Regions from separate parts of the Homo sapiens genome. Here region 1 is linked to region 2. Evidence: fine-mapped expression QTL. A gene starts in region 2. The other region holds a variant in brackets. All regions are shown on one strand. Distances are between the middles of the regions. Region 1 holds the start of EIF4H (eukaryotic translation initiation factor 4H). Region 2 holds the start of GTF2I (general transcription factor IIi).

Region 1 (11,221 bases), 480 kb before region 2:
CTGGCCTCAAGTGATCCTTCCACCTCGGCCTCCCAAAGTGCTGGGATTACAGACATGAGCCACTGAGCCTGGCCTACAATTCTTTTAGAAAGGATTTGTGACAGATAAATAATCTCAGGTTTCTATGAATACATTTATTTTCGTTATTGAAGGATGATTAAGCTGGGTATAGAGTCTGTGGTTCGGCATTATTTCCCCATGGAATTTGTATGATGTTATTCTATTGTCTTCTGTTACTGCTTCTGTCATCGTCAGTCTTACAGTCAGGTAAACAGCATTTGTGTTCACTCTGGTAGCTCTAAACATTTTTCTTTTTGTCTTTGTTCTGCACTTTTTTTTTTTTTTTTTTTTTGAGACAGGGTCTCACTCCATCACACAGGCTGGAGTGCAATGGCACAATCCCAGCTCACTGCAACCTTCACCTCCCAGGTTCAAGCGATTCTTGTACCTCAGCCTATCGAGAAGCTGGGACTATAGGTGTGTGCCACCACGCCTGGCTAATTTTTGTATTTACAGTACAGGCGGGGTTGTTCTGTATTTTCATCATGATGGTTCTAAATATAGACAGGCTGGGCACAGTGGCTCATGCCTGTAATCCCAGCATGTTGTGAGGCTGAGGCAGGAAGATCACTTGAGGTCAGGAGTTTGAGACCAGCCTAGGCAACAGAGTGAAACTTCACCTCTACGAAAAATCAAAAAATTAGCCTGGCATGTTGCGTGCTTGTGGTCCCGGCTACTTGGGAGGCTGAGGTGGGAGGATTGCTTGAGCCTGGTAAATCAAGGCTGCAGTGAGCCATGATCACGCCCACTGCACTCAGCCTAAGTGACAGAGCAAGACCCTTTCTTTAAAAAAAATAATAATAATTTAGCAAAAATTTAAATTAATTATGAATAAGTAAAAATGACATGTATTTCTTTTAGAAGGGGTGATCTTAAAAAAATTAAGCACATGAGGCCAGGTGTGGTGGCTCATACCTGTAATTCCAGAGCTTTGGAAAGCTGAGGAAGGAGAATTGCTTAAGGCCAGGAGTTCGACACCAGCCCAGGCAACATAGCAGGATCCTGCCTCCACGAAATGAAAACATTAGCTGGGTGTGGTGGACACGTGTAATCCCAGTGACTCGGGAGGCTGAGGCAGGAGAATTGCTTGAACCTGGGAGGTGGAGGTTGCAGTGAGCTGAGATCGCACCACTGCACTCCAGCCTGGGCAACAGTGTGAGACCCTGTCTCAAAAAAGAAAAAAGAAAATAGAAAATCTCCGAATCCCTGTATGACCTGGAAGCCTCCCCCAAAAACCTTCCTTCAAGTTGTCCCACCTTTCCAGACAGAACCAATGTATACATTACATGTATTGATTGATGTTTCCCTATAACTTATGTCCCTGTAAAATGTATAAAATCAAGCTGTAACCAACTCACTTTGGGTACATGTTCTCAGAACCTCCTGGGATTGTGTTATGGGCCTTGGTCACTCATATTTGGCTCAGAATAAACCTCTTTATTTTTATCTATTTATTTGAGACAGGGTCTCACTCTGTCACCCAGGCTGGAGTGCAGTGGCGCCATCTCACTGCAACCTCCATCTCCAGAGTTCCAGCTATCCTTCCACCTCAGCCTCCAAGTAGCTGGGACTACAGGTATGTGCCATCACGCCTGGCTAATTTTTTTTTGTAGAGATGAGGTCTCACTATGTTGCCCAGGCTAGTCTCAAACTCTTGGATTCAAGTGATCCTCCCACCTTGGCCTCCCAAAGCACTGGGATTACAGCAGTGAGCCAACATGCCCAATTTCAGATATAGATATATAGATATATATATATATATATATATATATATATATTTTTTTTTTTTTTTTTTTTTTTTGAGATGGAATCTTGTTCTGTTGCCCAGGCTGGAGTGCAGTGGCACGATCTTGGCTCACTCAACCTCTGCCTCCTGGGTTCAAGTGATTCTCTTGCCTCAGCCTCCCAAGTAGCTGGGATTACAGGCACGTGTCACCACACCCGGCTAATTTTCGTATTTTTAGTAGAGACGAGGTTTCACCATGTTGGCCAGGCTGGTCTCGAACTCCTGACCTTGTGATCTGCCCGCCTCCACCTCCCAAAGTGCTAGGATTACAGGCATGAGCCACCACCGTGCCAGGCTAATTTCAGATTTTTTTAGATAATAGCCATATTATACCAATAAAACATCATTTCAGCACATTAAAACAGCATGAATAGTGATAACTGGTATTACTATTATTATTCCTGTTTTATAGACAAAGAACAGAGGGATTAAGCACCTTGCTGGAGGTCACACAGTAGCAGTAAGTGGCTTGGCTGGGATTTGAAGACAGGCAGTTTGAAATGCAAGCCCACAGGCTTCACCGCTGCAATAAAGGCCTCTGGGAGAAAGTGTTATCTGAGTTGGGCCTTTGAGAGCCACCCCAGGGCTCAAGGGAACTGGTGAAGCCTGGAATATCCACTCTGGGGAAGGGCTTAGGGAACAAATTATTATTATTTCTTTATTTATTTTTGAGATGGAGTCTCGCTCTGTTGCCCAGGCTGGAGTGCAATGGTGTGATTTTGGCCCACTGCAACCCCCACCTCCCGGGTTCAAGCGATTCTCCTGCCTCAGCCTCCCGAGTAGCTGGGATTACAGGCGCCTGCTACCACATCCGGCTAATTTTTGTATTTTTAGTGGAGACGAGGTTTCACCATGTTGGCCATACTGGTCTTGAACTCCTGACCTCATGTGATCTGCCTGCATCAGCCTCCCAAAGTGCTGGGATTACAGGTGTGAGCCACGGTGCCCGGCCAGGGAACAAATTATTAATAGGACCAAAGTTCATGAGGATAACCTCAGGAAAGGCTGACATTTAACTTTGCCATGGAAGCAGTCACAATGTATACAGAACTTTCTGGGGTTGGCCTCAATCCTCTGCATCCCAGGTGGAGGTGGGCTATGTGCTGGAGACCAAAAGAAGGGGGAAGTCCCTATAGATTGGAGGGTCTAGGAGTGTGGCCCGAAAGACTGGCCCCAGCTGCTGGCTGGGGAGAAAGGGGTATTAAGCCGGGAAGGAGGGGATGACCTGTGGTTGGTCCCAGTGCTGAGAAAGCCCCAGCCTTCCTAGAAAGTCTATTTTTTAATTTTTTAGACGGATTCTTGCTCTGTCACCCAGGCTGGAGTGCAGTGGTGTGACCTCGGCTCACTGCCACCTCTGTCTCCCGGAATCAAACGATTCTCCTGCCTCAGCCTTCTGAGTAGCTGGGACTACAGCTGTACGCCACCAAGCCCAGCTAAGTTTTGTATTTTTACCAGAGATGGGGTTTTGCCATGTTGCCCAGACTGGTCTTGAACTCCTGGCCTCAAGTGATCCACCAGCCTCAGCCTCCCAAAGTGCTGGGATTACGGGCATGAGCCACCACACACAGCCCTCCCTTAAAAAAAAAAAAAAAAAAAATTTATTATGTTTTTTGATAGGATCTCAATCTGTGGCCCAAGCTGGAGTGCAGTGGTGTGATCATGGCTCACTACAGCCTCAACACCCTGGCTCAAGTGATCCTACCATCTCAGGCTCCCAAGTAGCTGGGTCCACAGGCATGTGCAACCACACCTGGCTAATTTTTATTTTTTGTAGATTTGGGGTTTTACTATGTTGCCCCGGCTGGTCTCCATTTGCTGGGGTCAAGCGACACTCCCGCCTCGGCTTCCCAAAATGTTGGAATTACAGGTGTGAGCCACCATGCCCCGCTTTTTACTTTATTAATGACAAATTGCACCCCTTCTCCCACATGTAAGGCCCTGTGGGACATAACCCCCTTAACATGGCTCCTGTCCTTCAAGATCTCACCCTGAAGTGACTTTGGACTGGGACACTTTGGAAGTAAAAAAAATGTAAGGCCATTCAGGAATAAATATTAACGTTTCCTTTTTTTTTTTTTTTTTTTGAGACGGAGTTTTGCTCTTGTTGCTCAGGCTGGAGTGCAATGGTGCAATCTTGGCTCACCGCAACCTCCACCTCACAGGTTCAAGTGATTCTCCTGCCTCAGCCTCCCAGGTAGCTGGGATTACAGGCATGCGCCACCACGCCTGGCTAATTTGTCTGCCCACCTCAGCCTCTCAAAGTGCTGGGATTACAGGCGTGAGCCACTGCCTCCAGCCCTTAATGTTTCCCTTTGGTCAAATGCAATTTGATGCATTTTAAGAGTAATGGAGTAGCCGGGTGTGGTGGCTCAGGCCTATCATCCCAGCACTTTGGGAGGCCAAGGCGGGTGGATCACCTGAGGTCGGGAATTCGAGACCAGCCTGACCAACATGGTGAAACCCCATCTCTCCTAAAAATACAAAATCAGCCGTGCATGGTGGCCGGTGCCTGTGGTCCCAGCTACATAGGAGGCTGAGGTAGGATCATTGCTTGAATCTGGGAGGCGGACGTTGCAATGGGCCGAGATGGTGCCACTGCACTCCAGCCTGGGTGACAGAGTGAGACTCCATCTCAAAAAAAAAAAAAGTAAAAAAAGAGTAATGGAGTGGCCAGGCACGGTGGCTCACGCCTGTAATCCCAGCACTTTGGGAGGCTGAGGTGGGTGGATCACCTGAGGCCAGGAGTTCAAGACCAGACTGGGAAACACATGGAAACCCCATCTCCACCAAAAATACAAAAATTAGCCAGGCGTGGTGGCGCACACCTGTAATGCCACTTACTCAGGTGGCTGAGGCAGGAGACTGGCTTGAATGCTGGAGGCGGAGGCTGCAGTGAGCTGAGATCGTGCCACTACAGTCCAGCCTGGGCAACAGAGTGAGACCCTGTCTCAAAAAAAAAAAAAAAATGAGTAATGGAGTGGCCGGGTGCGTGGTTCCCACCTGTAATCCTGCAATACCACTACTTCGGGAGGCCAAGGAGGGAGAATAACTTGAAGTCAGGAGTTCAAGACCTGCCTGGGGGGCCGGGCACGGTGGCTCAC[A/G]CCTGTAATCCCAGCACTTTGGGAGGCCAAGGCGGGCGGATCACAAGGTTAGATCAAGACCATCCTGGCTAACACGGTGAAACCCCGTCTCTACTAAAAATACAAAAAATTAGTCGGGCGTAGTGGCGGGCGCCTGTAGTCCCAGCTACTCAGGAGGCTGAGGCAGGAGAATGGCATGAACCTGGGAGGCGGAGCTTGCAGTGAGCCGAGATTGCGCCACTGCACTCCAGCCTGGGTGACACAGCCAGACTCTGTCTCAAAAAAAAAAAAAAGACCCGCCTTGGCAACATGGCAAGACCCATCTCTACCAAAAACAAAAAAAAAAAGAAAGTAAATAAGAGTAATAGAGTAATGGGGGCAGGAGCATGGAGCAGGGGTCCAAGTTTAAACTGCGCAAGGAGAAGAAACCATTGGTTATTTTCTGAGCCATGTGCTAAGGTCAAAACTAGGTGACCTTGGGCAAGTCTCTTTCTCTCTGGGTGGTTCCACAGCTGTTAAACAGGTTTGGAAATTATTATCTACAGGTAAAGCACCCATAATGGTGCCAGACACCTTGGTAGGTCCCCAATATATATTGTGTGCCAGGAATTTTACATATTTACTAATTTGAATCTTTACAACACTGAAGAGGTAGGTGACATTATTATATAGATGAGAAAACAGGCATGTTAAAGCGGTTAAGCAACGTCCTCGAGGTCACTCAGCCAGTAAGACGTTAACTGAGCCTAGGTTCAATCTAGGTCTATCAGGCAGCAAAGTGTTTTATTACTTGGGAAGAAAAAGGCACAGAAAAATGAATAAGTGAGTTCAACACTATTAACTCATGAATTGATAATGCTCTGTCCATCTTAACACTGCTATGAAGGAGAAGATACTCAAATATAAAAGTTGGCAGGGCACAGTGGCTCATGCTTGTAATTCCAGCACTTTAGGAGGCAGAGGCAGGAGGACTACTTAAAAGCCAGTAGATCGAGACAAACCTGGGCAACATAGTGAGACTCTGTCTCTACAAATAAATGTTTTACAAAGCAAATTAGAGCCAGGCACGGTGGCTCATGCCTGTAATCCCAGCACTTTGGGAGGCCAAGGCGGGTGGATCTCAGTTCAAGACCAGCCTGGGCAACATGGTGAAACGCTGTCTCTACTAAAAATACAAAAATTAACTGGGTGTGGTGGTGCACGTCTGTCACCCCAGTTACTCGGGAGACAGAGGCAGGAGAATTGCTTGAACCGAGGAGGTGGAGGTTGCAGTGAGATGAGATTGCGCCACTGCACTCCAACCTGATTCTCCATCTCAAAAAAAAAAAAAAAAAAATGCAAATTAGGCGAGGTACTGCCCGCCTATAGTCCTAGCTACTCCAGAGGCTAAGGCGGCAGGATGGCATGAGCCCAAGAGGTCAAGGCTGCCGTGAGCTACCACTGTTCCACCGCAGTCCAGCCTGGGCGACAGAGCGAGACCCTGTCTCAACAACGAACCAATAAATACATAATAAAAAGTAATGGTTAAGCGGAAGATACCTAGGTACACATCACAACAAAATTCTATGAGGTTCTTTCAAAGTGTGCTTAGATAATTAAGGTTTGTCAACATCGTGGCATCCACAATTACTACCATCTCAATCACAAACCTGGAAATTTACCCGTGTAATTAATTCCCACTGCATAACCATGTTTTGTTATTGCTAGATGATGGAATCCACAACAGTATCCAATTCTTTTTCCAAGGCAACGACTTCTGCAAAAAACCGAGATGTGCAGTCTCTCTTGCTAAGTCACCGATCACCTATACTCTCTCCTCTCAAAACCCCCCAATACCCAGGCAGCGAGTAAGCCCTGGAAGGCAGGATTCGTGTCTGCATCCCACCGCCTCGCACCCCCTTCCGGGGCATCCTCATCGTGTGGCCAGCTCCTGCCTGGAGAAGGAGGTGGCCTTTACTTGGGTGTCACCCGGGGACCACTTGGGGGTCCAAGCGGGACAGGCCTCCGAGGTCCCCGCCATGTATGGAGGCCGAAAGGCAGCGTCCCAGGCGAACTGGAGAGGGAGTTCCCCCCAGCTCTCCAGGTCACCTCCCGCCGACGGACGGAAAGGCCGGCGCGCACGGGCGTGGTGCGGCGGGGATAGGAGGCAGCCACGGGCGCACCCCAGGGCCAGCACATAATGGGCCGCGTAGGCCGGGCAGGCGTCCAGCTGGGACGCCGCCGCACCACGTGGGCTGCAGAGCGCACGGGGCAGGCAGCTGCCGGTGGGCCCAGGGCCGGGCGCTGCGCGGCCAGCGTCCGTGCGTGCGTGCGCGCGCGCGCGTGCGCGTGCCTGCGTCCAAGGGATTTGCGATCAGGCGGCGCGGCGGACAGCCCCGGCGGCGGGGCGGGGGGAGTTATATTGCGGGGTCCTTCCTCGCTCACCCTGGTTCCTCTCGGAGCGGAGACGGCAAATGGCGGACTTCGACACCTACGACGATCGGGCCTACAGCAGCTTCGGCGGCGGCAGAGGGTGAGGCGGGCGTGCGCGGGCCCCGTCGGGGGCTGCGGGACCGGCGGAGTCGGGGCCGTCAGGGTGGCGGCCGTCCTGCGCTCAGCCGGGGCGGCGGGAGGCGGGGGCCCGCGGAGGCCTAGGAGCGGCGCCTGGAGGGCCGGGGCCTGGAAATGGCGCGCTCGGAGACGGGGCGGCGGCGGCTGGGCTCCCGGGGTCTTGCTTGCGGGGCGGATCCCTTCCACTGCCTCCCGCCAACGACAACGTGTTGGTTTTTGCCCTGCCTTGGCCGCGGCGGCGCCGATGCCCGGAGACGAGCGCCCGCTTCCAGCCCCATCCCCCCTACGGTAGGACCAGTGCGGGGCTGAGCTGTGGCGCTGGGGTACGGGCCACACGGCCTGCCCCGCTCCGGTCCCGGCCTCTTTCGCGGCCCTCTGTTGCCTGCCCGCCTTGCAGGCCCCTGGCCCCTTCGCCACGAGGCCGGCCGACTGGGGAAGGTCGGCAGCCAAGAGGGGCGATTCCCTTCCCCTTACGTGTGAGGCAGGGATTTGGCGGCTCTGGCCCGGGGATGGTACGACTCCTTGCGGGCGGGGGGAGACCAAGGAGATAAATCCATCGTAGCTTCTTTGTATTAATCTTTCTTGGGTCACAGTGCCTTGACAGGTGCTACGTGCTCTTTGGCACAATTTCATTTCTCCTTGGTTTCTCGCTCTGATCTGGAGAAGGAACCGCATTTAGCGTCGTCCTGATTGTTGTCAAATGCAGACAACTATGTATAATTGAAACACTTTGCTTAAAAGAAACATCTTTGAATAGAGAGCTCATGGTGTTTAATTCCAGGACTCTGCACTTTTTTTTATTTTATTTTTTAAATACAAGTTGCCTCGTTAGAATATAGGCTATGAACATCTTGCTGTTTGTCAAGGACACACTTGGGCTTTGTGTTTTCTTGCAGAAAGGATTACTTTCCCAGGATAACACCACAATAATACACACTGAGGTGTTCAGTCTCCTGGGTTGCAGTCCAAAAGTATCTTTGTTTGGTAAAGAATGATCACTTTTAATACCTTGGTTTGGGAACGGCTCAGACAAAAGCTTGTTTCGGGGCAGGAGTGTAGCTAATGTTCATGATACTGTAACGTGGAAGTGTGCCGGTGTAGGTGGAGCTATTGTCATTCCAAAGAACATTTTATTTGCTAATAAAAAAAGAAGTAAATGTTGGATGACATGAAATTATCGCCTTTGGGTTAGGTTTCTAAACATCAAATTTGTTCTCAAGTCATTTCGAAATTTAATAACTAGGGTTTTTTTTTTTTTCCTAGTTCCAAAAAACGTTCACAGAAGTACCCAGAAAAATTCTTCTTAAACAGCGTGGTCAATTTAAGTTTTAGTTGCATTGGGACTACAATAAGGTGACCTTATTAAACTGAGTGTGGGGATTTAAAAAAATTTCCTTCAGACACATTTGCCAGCTCTTCTGGTGTCAAATTTTGACATTTGGGGGTGCCAGGAACAATCAGAAGTAAAATTCTATTAAGATGCTATTAATTTCAAATCTCCACAGCAGATGAAAATATTAGCCATTTGCCCCAGGTGTACTCCAAAAACTGATAGGAGAGTTTCCTAGGTAGCACTGTGCATCACTTGAACTTCCTAATAGAAAGTCTCTTTACTGTTAAGCATCTTCTATGTCTCACTTACTTGGAATTTTCTATTTGGCTTCATATTAATGTGAAACTACATAAAGTATTGCTACTTTCAGAAGTAGTTTTAAAAACTTGTTGGTGAATTTACATATTCATTTATACATGTGTATTCTTTTTTTTTTTTTTTGAGATGGAGTTTCACTCTTGTTGCCCAAGCTGGAGTGCAATGGTGTGATCTCGGCTCACTGCAACCTCCACCTCCCGGGTTTAAGCGATTCTCCTGCCTCAGCCTCCCAAAGTGCTGGGATTACAGGCATTAGCCACCGCGCCCGGCCTCAATTATTTTAATTATGTCCACATGAACAAATGTCACTGCTTTACAATGCTTAAGCATCATAGAAGATTGCCACCTATGGAAAGCAGTTTTAACACTGCATTGTTTGGTACTTGTGTAGGCACCTTCTCCCTTGTCTAAAATGCCTCAGACAGGCTCGTACATCTCACCTCTGAATTACTTGGGTCACAGGTGAAAGAAATGGTAGGCCTAAAATGAACAGTTATCATCATAAAACATAGTTTGGTAGTTATACATCTTCCTAAGTTTATTTCGTAGTTGTGTTTAATAACCAGTGCAGTTGTCAGGAAACAGTATTGAACCACTGCTTTTTTCCCCCGAGCCTGTAAGGGCATGTCCCCAGCAGCCAGGGAGAGAACCAGGGACTGCATTGTTCAGCAAGCAAATCAAAACAAAATTCCAAATGATCAAGAGTTGATTGTACCAGATCTTGAATGGACTTTGTTTTGCAGTTTGCTAAATTATCTTTTTGAGGTTCCAGTTTCTCATCTACCATTGGCAGTAAAGTGCAGAGTAATACTGATTTTATATTTCTAATTGCAACAAAGCTATGAGTGCTTAGTGGAAAACCACCGATCCTGAGAATTAGGGTGGAAATTGGAGGTGGCAAGAATTGAGGTGGCTGAAATGGTGCCATCTAAAAACTGGCAAAACTCCAAATTTATTCTTTATCAGGATTCAGTTAGGGAGTTTAGAATTCTTTTTTAAATAGAGATGGGTTTCACTATGTTGCCCAGGCTGGTCTTGAACTCTTGGACTCAAGTGATCCTCCCGCCTCAGCCTCCCAAAGTGTTGGGATTACAGGCATGAGCTACCACGCCCAGCCTAGGAGTTTAGAATTCTAACCTTTGAATCTTTAAACTTAGCATGTCTGTCTAAATTTCTGAGCATATTTTTATCCAAAATTTTTATGGTGGTAAAATATACATAACATAAAATGTGCCACTTTACCCATTTTTCAGTATACATTTCAGGGATATTGAGTGTATTCGTAATGTATAACCATCACCACTATCCAGCTCCTTAACTCTTACAGCTTGTAAAACTAAAACCCTGTCCCCTTTGAATAGTAATTCCCTATTGCCCTCCTTCCCCCAGGTCCCTGGCAACCACCATTCTACTTCCTGTCTCTGAGCATATTTTAAGATTTGTATGTAATAGGAAGGAAAGCAGTGTATAAAAACTACAGCTAGTTTTCACTGATGCTAGGGCCTGTAAAGCTATTGAAAAGCTTATTTTAAAATGCTGTTTACATGTCAAATGTCAAGTCGTTTAGGTTTGTTATCCTTCTTCACTCCAAGTGTTCCATTGCTTAGTTCCAAACCATTATCCTCTATGAAAAGTGTTACCAGAAATATTTGGATTTGCTAAGAGGTCTCTGCATGACGGTTCATGTAAAAGCCCTGGCTTTGGAATAAGGCAGACCAGAGTTTCATCAGTTCAGCCATGTGTTAGTTGTGTGATCTGAAGTAAGTTTCTTCACCTCTCTGAGCCTCGTTTTCCCCACATATGAGTTAGAAACATGTATTTATTTATGAAATAGGCTCTCCTTCTGTCACCCAGGCTGGAGTGCAGTGGCAGGATCATAGCTCAGTGCAGCCTCGACTTCCCAGGCTCAAGCCATCCTCCCACCTCAGCCTCCCAAGTAGCTGGGATTACAGGGTGCGCCACCATGCCCAGCTAATTTTTGTATTTTTTTGTAGAGACAGAGTGTCTCTATGTTGCCCAGGCTAGTCTCAAACCCCTGGGCTCAAGGGATCTTCCTGCCTCAGCCTCCCAAGGCTCATTGTGTGAGCCACAGTA
Region 2 (11,221 bases):
ATCAGCCTGACCAACACGGAGAAACCCCGTCTCTACTAAAAATACAAAATTAGCCGGGTATGGTGGCGCATGCCTGTAATCCCAGCTACTTGGTACGCTGAGGCAGGAGAATCGCTTGAACCCGGGAGGCAAAGGTTGCGGTGAGCTGAGATCACGCCATTGCACTCCAGCCTGGGCAACAAGAGCGAAACTCTGTCTCAAAAAAAGAAAGAAAGAAAGAAAAGAAACATGGACTTTTTTCATATTAAAAAAAGTTTTGAATGCTAAATAATACCATCTAATATTTATATAACACGTACCCAAGTTGATAAAGTATTTTCATCTACATATCATCTGATTTCCCCAAATCCCTGGAGGAGGCAGAGAAAATACTATGGAGGTTTTATTTTTAACAACTTAAATTTAGAGCTTTATATTTAAAAACTTAAATTTTAAAACTTCAAAAAACAACTACAATGTTAACATAATCCTAAATAGCAGATAAAATTCATCTAAATCCTGCTACCCCAACAAAGAAAACTGTTTATTTCAACTGGTGCTACATGAATATTCGTTTTACTGTGTCGGCCAGATGCTCACACAAAAGGCAGAGCTGGAGCTGGAAGGTCTATTTAGATCACACCTACATTATTAATTGTTATGAATAAATTATAACTTGGATTTAGTCTTTTTTCCCCACCTTTGGATGAATTCTAAGAACCATACATACTGGAAAAGGTCGTCATTTATTCAGGATTCTAAATATTCAAATTATTCAAACAAAAAACCATTCAAAAACAGTGTTTTATAATCAGTATTAAAAAATATCATTGTGGTTGGATGTGTTGGCTCATGCCTGTAATCCCAGCACTTTGCGAGGCTGAGGCAGGCAGATTACAAGGTCAGGAGTTTGAGACCAGCCTGACCAACATGGTAGAATCCCGTCTCTACCAAAAATACAGAAATTAGCCGGGCGTGGTGGTGCTCGCCTGTAATCCTAGCTACTCAGGAGGCTGAGGCAGGAGAATCGCTTGAACATGGGAGACGGAGGTTGCAGTGAGCCGAGATCACGCCACTGCTCTCCAGCATGGGATACAGAGTGAAACTCTGTCTTAAAAGAAAACAAACAAAAGAAAAAGTGGCTGGGCACGGTGGCTCATGCCTGTAATCCCAACACTTTGGGAGGCCGAGGTGGGCGGATCATGAGGTCAGGAGTTCGAGACCAGCCTGACCAACATAGTGAAACCCTGTCTCTACTAAAAATACAAAAATTAGCTGGGCCTGGTGGCACGCACCTGTAATCCCAGCTACTCAGGAGGCTGAGACAGGAGAATTGCTTGAACCCGGGAGGCGGAGGTTGCAGGAGCCGAGATCGCGCCATTGCACTCCAGCCTGGGCAACTGGAGTGAGAGACCTTGTCTCAAAACAAAAAGCAGAAAACAAAAAAACAGAGTATCTGAACTTTCACCAGAATTATGGTTTTGGGCAATCTGGTCTGGGCGCAGTGGCTGAAAGTGCAATGGCAGCACTTTGGGAGTCCGAGGTGGAAGGATCACCTGGGCTTAGGAGTTTGAGACCAGCCTGGCCAACATGACCAACATGGTGAAACCTCGTCTCTACTAAAAATCCAAAAATTAGCCGGGTGTGGTGGTGTGCACCTATAATCCCGGCTACTCAAGGGCCTGGGGCAGGAGAATCGCTTGAACCTGGGAGGTGGAGGTTGCAGTGAGCTGAGCTTGTGCCACTGCACTCCAACCTGTGTGACAGAGTGAGACTCCATCAAAAATAATAATAATAATAATAAATAAATATAATATAATATATGAGAGACGGTGGGTGCAGGTGCTCTCGCCTGTAATCATAGCACTTTGGAAGGCTGAGGCAGGAGGATTGCTTGAAGCCAGGAGTTTGGAACCAGCCCGGTCAACATAGCAAGACTCCATCTCTACCAAAAAAAAAATGATATAACAGAGTCACCAAAAGAGTATTCAGTTTGGATTCAAAAAAACATCTTTAAAAAGAGCATATGATCCCAACAACAGAGATCTCAACAAAGTGGCATAACCACCGTTCTGTCACCGTGGGCTTTCAGGGGTTCCTATGCAGGGTCCCATGATCACGTGCTATTTCTTTTTTCTTTTCTTTTCTTTTTTGTTTTGAGATGGAGTCTCGCTCTGTCTCCCAGGTTGGAGTGCAGTGGCGCGATATCGGCTCACTACAACCTCCGCCTCCCGGGTTCAAGCAGTTCTCTGCCTCAGCCTCCCGAGTAGCTGGCATTACAGGCGCCTGCCACCACGCCCGGCTAATTTTTTGTATTTTTAGTAGAGACAGGTTTCACCATCTTGAGACGGAGTCTCGCTCTTTTGCCCAGACTGGAGTGCAATGGCGCGATCTCAGCTCACTGCAACCTCTGCCTCCCCGGTTCAAGCGATTCTACTGCCTCAGCCTCCCGAGTAGCTGGGATTACAGGCACATGCCACCATGCTCGGCTAATTTTTTTTGTATTTTTAGTATCGATGGGGTTTCACCATGTTGGCCAGGCTGGTCTCAAACTCCTGACCTCGTGATCCTCCCACTTCGGCCTCCCAAACTGCTGGGATTACAGGCATGAGCCACCGCGCCAATCACATGCTATTTCAAAGCAGTCAACGAAGCTCTAAGCCCAGAGTCTAAGCGAAGATGCATCTGAGTTGGTGGAAGTGCTCACGTGGGGTCCAGATCCATCTCTAGCTTGGCCAAGGCCCATTTGACCTGGCTTTGTTTCCCACCAAACAGAAGAATGGAAAAGTCACATCATATGGACGCTTATCTGAAGACTAAGCTAAACATTAACAAAAAGAGAGGGGGAAATAATTGAAATAACATGGATGGTTCTGCCAGCTGTTGGACTCTGTACTTATGTCCTGACTGACCATGAGCTGAGAGCCGCAAATCTGCTCTTGCTGAAGCCCCAATCCAGTCTGCATCTCTTGGTATATGCATCCTGTGATTCTAGTATTTTTTTTTTTTTTTTTGAGACGGAGTTTCGCTCTTGTTGTCCATGCTGGAGTGCAATGGCATGATCTCGGCTCACAACAACCTTTCCCTCCCAGGTTCAAGCGATTCTCCTGCCTCAGCCTCCTGAGTAGCTGGGATTACAGGCATGCGCCACCACGCCCGGCTAATTTTATATTTTTAGAAGAGATGTGGTTTCTCCATGTTGCTGAGGCTGGTCTCGAACTCCTAACCTCAGGTGATCTGCCTGCCTCGGCCTTCTAAAGTGCTGGGATTACAGGCATGAGCCACTGTGCCCAGCCCGATTCTAGTCTTTAAAGGAGGATTTCCTGGCTGGGTGCAGTGGTTTACGCCTGTAATCTCAGCACCTTGGGGGGCTGAGGCAGGCAGATCACTTGAGGTCAGGAATTTGAGACCAGACAGACCAACATGGTGAAACCCTGTCTCTACTAAAAATCCAAAAATTAGCCGGGCATGGTGGTGCATACCTGTAATCCCAGCTACTCGGGAGGCTGAGGCAGCAGAATCGCTTGAGCCCAGGAGTTGGAGGTTGCAGTGAGCCAAGATCGCACCATGCACTCCAGCCTGGGCACCGGAGTAAGACCCCGTCCCCTCCCAAAAAAATCAATAAATAAAATAAAGGAGGACTTCCTACTACATCATTTTTAGACACAAATCAACTATTATTTTTCTTCTGTTGCCCAATCCCCAAAACAGTAATCTGATCCTACATTTGAAAAAAAACCTGGGCCCAGTGCAGTGCCTCATGCCTGTAATCGCAGCACTTTGGAGGCCACGGCAGGAGGCTTATTTGAGCCCAAGAAGTCAAGACCAGCCTGGGCAACATAGTGAGACCCGTCTCTACAAAAAACGAAATTAGCTGGGTGTGGTGGCACATACATGTTGTCCCAGGCATTTGGGAGGCTAAGGTGGGAGGATGGCTTGAATCTGGAGTTGGAGGCTGCAGTGAGCTGTGATCGAACCACTGCAGTGCAGCCTGGGTGATACAGTAAGACCCTGTCTCAAAAACAGGAAAAAAAAAAAGTAAAACAAAACCCCAGCTTTGCAGAGAGATAGTATCCAAAGTGATTTATAACAATGGCCACAATTAATGTAGTATCTATGCCACTAAGATGAAGGAGAAATTGGTTGACAAGTGTTCCAACAAGCCGCAGTGAGCCAGACCTTAATGAAGACAGAACACGCAAGATCTTTATGACTGTAACACATGAATTTGAGGGTTACAAACCTTAATGGCAAAATGCTCAGAAAAACGCTTTGTCTGCATACACATTGCCTCAACAGAGACAGCTTTCTGACTAGAGGTAATTCAAAACCAGCTCATGTTGACCTAACCGTTTTAGGAATTGCTTCAGTCTCAAAGAAGTTGGAGTTGTTTATGAAGAGGCAGCAAAATTCCACTGTGGGCCCGGTGCGGTGCTCACGCCTGTAATCTCAGCACTTTGGGAGGCTGAGGAAGGCAGATCACTTGAGGTCAGGAGTTCGAGAACAGTCTGGGCAACATGTTTAGTAGAAACCCGTCTCTACTAAAAATACAAAAATTAGCTGGGCGTGGTAGTGCACGCCTATAATCCTAGCTACTCAGGAAGCTGAGGCAGGAGAATCACTTGAACCCGGGAGGTAGACGTTGCCGTGAGCCGAGATCGCGCCACTGCACTCCAGCGTGGGTGACGGAGCGAGGCTCGGTCTCAAAAAAAAAATTCCACTGTGAACCACTAAACAAATTCATAGAAGAAAGGAACTACCTTCCAAACGTTTTCACGATGATAAGAGTCATCTTGGCTAAATAAACTTCTGCCTTGCTAACTCACTTTGTAACATCCCCCCAAATTCTACTCCACGACTCCACTATACCCAGGAAATCCTTTCCCTGACCCCTCCAGGTGGAGAAACCACTCTCTCAACAAAAGATACTCACTGAAGTCCACAGCAGCTGAAATCTGCATCTCGTAGGCTGGCTGCTCTTACTAGAGTGAGTTATAGGCTTCTCAAGAGTTAAATTTGTTCCTAAATATATGCCAGTGGCACGTGGTATTGGGAATAGAGAATTTAATTAAATATTACTAAATGTCAATGAAATACAAGTGCAAAAAGAAAGTTGCTCTTGTGCAAACTTAATGAATGACTTTCGAGACAATCGACAAAGGAGAGTCACAATCTTATTAGGCAAGGACCGAAGGGATCCTAGACATTGTCCGGGAAATCGCAAAAATTCAGGCTTCTGTAATCAGATTGCTTCTCCGGTGAGCTTTACGCTCTCCATGTATTTTTCAAAAAAAATCCAACATGAAAATTCTAGAGGAGGCTTTATTGGGTGCGGTCTGTGCAAGAGAGACGATGGGGAATGCCAATCGGAGAACCCAGATTGAAAGGAAAGGTTTTTGGAACCCACATCAAAAGACTGGCTGCTCGGAAAGTTTTCTCGCTAGCGACAAAGGCTTGGAGGCTGGAAAAAGCGTCGTGGTCGCCACCTACCGAGAAGCGGCGGGTGGGGGGAGGATGGCCGTCGTGGCCCGAATCCCCAGTGGGTGGTACTGGGTGGGGGGGCGGGCGGGAATCAAAAAACCACTCAATCTCGTGCTTTACATAAACATCTAAAAATCGTCGGCCTCGGGGTTGTAAAGTTTTGGAGTTTAACTTAGGTGAACAGTAATGTCTCTCCATTTTCAAAACCCACCGGCTAATTCAAGTTGAGAAGCAAAAAATAGTGGTAGGGGGAGGAGTTTGAGTTAAATCGCATCGCGGTTGACAGAACAAAACAGGAGCTACGAGTCAGGATTTCTGCTCCCACTCCCTTGCAAGTTTCCTTCCAAATCCTGAGGGAGAGATAGAGGCGGAGGGTCTGGGGGAGGAATTAAAACACAAGGTCTCCTCCCCTCTCGCCTGTCCGAACTTGGGGGCAACGGTCTCTTTGGAGGCCAGCTTGGAAAACACTAGAGAGGAGTTCTTTGTGTCCTGGAGGGTGGTGCAAGGCGGAAGGACTCCCCTTTTGCAGAGCAAGGAGGGCGACGGCCCAGCCCGGGGCTCCCCGGCTTTTGCAGCTTCCCTGCCTCGCAATTTGCAAGGAATGTGGGGTGCAAGAGCAAGTGGCGGACTTGGACGGCGGCTGGCGCTCGGTGGGGACGACGCCGGAGCCACCACCCGTCCAGATTTCCGTTTCTGCACCCCGGCTCCCCTCCCCCACCCGGGCGGCCGCGCAGGCCCCAGGTGCAGCCATGTTCTCGCTCCCACCACCCTCGCCTCCATTGACAGCCCTTGCTGGAGAGGGCCGGGCGCCGCGCTTGCCTCGTCCTCGGGTTCGGGGCTAGCCGGCGCGGTGCTTCCTGGGAGTTGTAGTCCACGACCGCCGCCGCCGCGTTGACGGGGAACGCATCCGAAACTACAACTCCCGCTGGGCGGCGCTGCGGATGCGCAGGCGCAACGCGCCTTCGAGGAACAAAAAAAAAAAAAAAAAAAAAAAAAAAGAAAAAAAAGAAAAAAAAAAGGAGGAGGAGGAGGAGGGTGAGAGAGAAGCTGGGAGAGCAGAGAAAAGGGGCCACCGGTCGCCCCCCCGCTTCCCCGCACGCGCTCTCCAGCCGCGGCCGCCCGCCTGCCGCGGTCACCCCGGCCTCTGCCTCTGTCCCCCAGTGATCGGATCAAGGCGCTGAGCGAGGCCCTGCCTGCGGGGCGGCCATGCGGCGGTGACAGGAGCGCGACCGACACGCACGGGCCCCTCGCCCCCTCTCGCCTCCCGTCCGCTCGCCAGCTCCCCTCAGCCGAGGCTGCTCCGCGGCGGCCGCAGCCCGCGCGCGGCCCACACTCGCCTCCCCTCGGCACCCCCGGCCCCGGAGCTGCCTGGAGGCGGCCGCACTCGGGTGAGTCCCTCTCGCCTCATCCCCGCGCCCCCCGCCCCCGCCTCGGGGGCCATTGCGAGCGGGGGCCTTTATTAGAGACTTTGCCCCGCCGGGGCCTGCAGGGACAGGGGCCTGGGAGCCGCGGCCCGCCGCGCGCGGTGTGGGGCCTTGGGGGGCGCCCGTGCCGCCTCCCCCTACCCCCACCCCCACCGCCTCGCCGGGTCTCGAGCCCCGCCGGCCTTGGCAGTGGCCGAAACGAGGCGATGGGGGTGGGGCGGCACGGACGCGGTCGCGGGGGACGACAGTGGCACGCGCGCGCCTCAGTGCGCGTGGGGGAGGGGCGCGCGCGCCGACCGGCGTGCGGTGGGGGGGCGCCTCGCGCGTGCGATCCCGCGCGCGAGCGAGCGAGCGGCCCTGCGGGCTGCGCATGCCCCGCCGCGCTGATTGGCCGGCTAGGCGGTGCGGGGGCGCGCGCGGTGCCAGGCCCGAGCCGTCGTGGGGTCGCGCTCGCCTGGTGTATCTGGGGCTCCTGCGCCGGGGCAGCAGACGCGCGGGATTGGCCAACCGGCGCGGGGGCGGGGCCGCGCGTTGCCTGGTAACTGCGGCGGGCGGGGGAGCGGGAGCGCTGTCCCCCGCCCCGCCCCGCTCCCAGGTGGAGTCCGCAGTGGGCTTTGTCCCGGGCCGGCCCGGCGCGCCTGCCCCGCGGGGCCTGTTCTTTGGGGGAAATAAACACAATGACCGGAAGGAAAACTTCAGCTTTAGGCCATGAAAATTAAGCCGTCTGGGTTCAGCCAGCACCCAGACGACGGGAGTGCAGAGGAAGAAGGAAAATGAAATGGAAAAAGCTGTCTCCTTCCCGCTCCCCGACTTCTCCACTTTTTCTTAATCCAGCTTTTGCTTTTTCGTGTAGCGAATTTTGTCCTCCCTAGGTTATGGATTTGCGCTGATTTGCGGCTGGGGATGTTCACAGGTGGGGTGCTGTTGGAGTAGTGTCCACTCTTGGCGATGCGCAGCTCTTGCTGACTACTGACCTCCTTTTTTTAAAAAAAATTATTTGTGGAGATGCGTTCTCACTTTGTTGCCCAGGCTGGTCTTGAACTCCTAGGCTCAAGCGATCCTCCCACCTTGGCCCCCCATAGTGCTGGGATTACAGGTGTGAGCCATCGCTTTCGGCTTAATTTTCTTTTTTTTTTTTAGAAACAGGGTCTCTCTGTGTTGCCCTGGCTGAAGCGCAGAGTGGCACAATCATAGCACATTGCAGCCTCCAACACCTGGGCTCCAGCGATCCTCCTGCCTCAGCCTCCTCAGTGGCTGGGACTACAGGCGCATGCCATCATGCCCTGCTAATTTTTTTTTTTTTGAGATGGAGTCTCACTCTGTGGCCCAGGCTGAAGTGCACTGGTGTGATCTCGGCTCACTGCAACCTCTGCCTCCCGGGTTCAAGCCGTTCTCCTGCCTCAGCCTCCTGAGTAGCTGGGATTACAGGCGTGCCCACCACGCCCGGCTAATTTTTGTATTTTTAGTAGAGATGGCGTTTCACCATGTTGGCCAGGCTGGTCTCCAACTCTTGAATCAAGCTGAAAGCAATCGGCCCGCCTCGGCCTGCCACCAAAGTGCTGGGATTACAGGCGTGAGCCACCGCCCTGGGTCACGCCTGGCTAATTTAAAATTTTTTTTTAGAGATGGGGTCTTCTTGTGTTGCCTAGGCTGGTCGGGAACTCCTGGACTCTGGTGATCCTCCCGTTTAGGCCTCCCAAAGTGGTGGGAGTACAGGCTTGAGCCACCACGCTGGGCCTCATCTCTTTTAAATTCAACTTTGCCGCAGACAATGGCTTGATCAGCCAACAGTGCAGAGGAGAAGTCTCCAGTCCTTCAGGGAACAAAAGGGGAAGTTAGTTTGCAAATGAGAACGTGCAGGTAGAGTGCCCTGCGGAGGCGGGGTCTTCTCCCCAGGCTGAGGCCTGTGGTGTGGGATGACCGATTTTATTTCCTGCTACAGGATTTTTCTGTGGCTGCTACCTTGGCTTTCGTTTCTCCTCCTCCTTGAGATCTTGGTCTTTTGGCTGGAATGACATTTTTCAGCCTATGGAAATCTTTCTTGCTCATATGCAGCCACTTCCTTAAGGTCTTCTCTTTTTTTTTTTTTTTTGCTGCTGTTGTTGAGAGGGTTTCGTTCTATCCCCCCAGGCTGGAGTGCAGTGGCGCGATCTTCGCTCACTGCAACCTCCACCTCCCGGGTTCAAGCGATTTTCCTGCCTCAGTCTCCCCCGAGTAGCTGGGATTACAGGCGCCTGCCCCCAAGCCCCGCTAATATTTGTATTTTTAATAGAGACGGTGTTTCGCCATGTTTGTCAGGCTGGTCTTGAACTCCTGACTTCAGGTGATCCGCCTGCCTCGGTCTCCGAAAGTGCTGGGATTACAGGCGTGAGCCACCGCTCCCGGCCTGTGGTCTTCTCTTATATTGCATAGTCAGAGTTTGTTCCTTCTTAGTCTCCCAATCAACTTGTGTGCCCTTCCTCGCAGGGCACCTTTATTTTCTCTCTTTTTTTTCCTTTTCCTTTTTCTTTTCTTTTCTTTTTTTTTTTTTTTCGGAAGCGGAGTTTCGCTCTCGTTGCCCAGGCTGGAGTGCAGTGGCGCGATCTCGGCTCACTGCAACCTCCGCCTCCCGGGTTCAAGCGATTCTCCTGCTTCAGACTCCTGAGTAGCTGGGATTACAGGAGCGCTCCACCACGCCCGGCTAAGGGCACTTTTACTTTCCTCTGCATCTGGCCTAGTCACTGGGTGTTGAGCTCGTAGGGGCAGGGACAAGAAGCCTTTTCCTCCTATGTCTTTCTCCCTCCACTTCCCCCTCCAGTTTGGCATCGTCCTCGTGCCTTGCCGGTGGTAGCAATGCTGCTTACATTTGAGTGTCTTCCGTGCCCCCTCCATGGCTCTTGAGCGCTTTGGATGTACAGTATTTTTCTTATTTAATCTTTGTGACAAGTCTGTAATTCTATTCTATAGAGCGGAACAAGTCTAGAGAAGTTGGAGAGTTCTGTACTCTTGCTTGCCTAGCACATGAACCTGGCCAGTGTGACTCAACCCCTAAGCCGAGGTTGTGAAACCACCGCGCCTGGGCGTCCCCGGGAGAGCTGGCATGTGCGGACTCTGCTTGCTGGGCCCTACCTCCCAGGCTGATTCTGCAGGTCTGGGGAGTTGCCCCACAATTTGCATTTCGATTAGCTCCCCAGGTGGTGTTGATGGTGGCTGCTTCCCGGACAGCCCTTTGAGAACCATTCACAATGGTGCAAAATGAAGGGAGAGAAATTTATTGGAGATATTTGCTTTTTCTTACTTTAAAATTAGATCTTGGCCGGGTGCGGTGGCTCACACCTGTAATCCCAGCACTTTGGGAGGCCGAGGGAGGTGGAACACCTGAAGTCAGGAGTTGGAGACCAGCCTGCCGACATGGCGAAACCCCGTCTGTACTAAAAATACAAAAATTAGCCGGGTGTGGTGGCGTGCGTACGTAGTTTCAGCTACTTGGGGAGGCTGAGGCAGGGGGATCTCTTGAACCCAGGAGGTGGAGGTTGCAGTGAGATGAGATCTCACCACTGCACTCCAGCCTGGGCGACAGAGCGAGACTGTGTCTCAAAAAAAATAAAAATAAAATAGATGTTAAAGAATGAAAAATAATTCGGACGACTGACGGTAGATTGCTCAGAAAACTGGCTGAGAGTTGAGAATTCCTGTTAGCCATGATTAGAAAAGTTAAAAGTTTCATAAGTCTCCAGTTTAAAAAGGGGCCATGGATTTAAGTGTGGAATAAAATGGGAAATCTTTGGAAGTTTGGCTTTTTTCCCACTCTGATTTATTTATTAATTTAGTCGCAGCACGGGCATTTGTTACATTATCCTCTTCAGATGCCCAAAGTCTGCCACACCACCACACAGAAGGTTTGAGTGATAGGACCACAGCTTGTAGTTTTGGCCCTTGGAGGTAGGGGGGTTGGGGAGCATTGTGTGCTGAGTCTCCTCTGCCACATGCCCCTCCAGCGATTCAGCTTACTCAAATATGACTACAGAGACTGACATTAAAATGTAGGCTTTGGGGGTTCTTTTTGCGGGACGGGGTTGGGGGCAATTCTTGCTGAGAAAGATTTTTAGGTTTTTTCTTTCTTTTTTTTTTTTTTTTTTTTTTTTTTTGATGGAGTTTCACTCTGTCGCCCAGGCTGGAGTGCAATGGCACAATCAGCTCACTGCAACTTACGCCCCCCCAGGGTCAAGTGATTCTCCTGCCTCAGCCTCCGGAGTAGCTGGGATCATAGGCATGCGCCACCATGCCTGGCTAACTTTGTATTTTTAGTAGAGACGGGGTTTCTGCATGTTGGTCAGGCTGGTCTCGAACTCCTGACC

Evidence for each region. PIP is the estimated chance that this variant, and not a neighbour inherited with it, causes the effect.
Region 1: its variant is fine-mapped to the expression of GTF2I in anterior cingulate cortex (GTEx, PIP 0.98).

The regions. Positions count from the first base shown.
Region 1 is chr7:74,167,005-74,178,225 of GRCh38, forward strand. EIF4H (eukaryotic translation initiation factor 4H) reads left to right here and starts at 7,352. Exons shown (of 7, transcript NM_022170.2): 1 at 7,352-7,438. The coding sequence starts at 7,380. RefSeq lists a silencer at 7,103-7,612 and enhancers at 7,115-7,409, 7,391-7,904, 7,905-8,417. The variant A/G (reference allele first, on the strand shown) is at 4,948.
Region 2 is chr7:74,651,221-74,662,441 of GRCh38, forward strand. GTF2I (general transcription factor IIi) reads left to right here and starts at 6,498. Exons shown (of 35, transcript NM_032999.4): 1 at 6,498-6,848. RefSeq lists silencers at 6,048-6,207, 6,578-6,757, 6,778-7,067, 7,138-7,657 and enhancers at 6,288-6,407, 6,428-6,477, 8,428-8,657, 8,928-9,067, 9,956-10,598 and 1 more.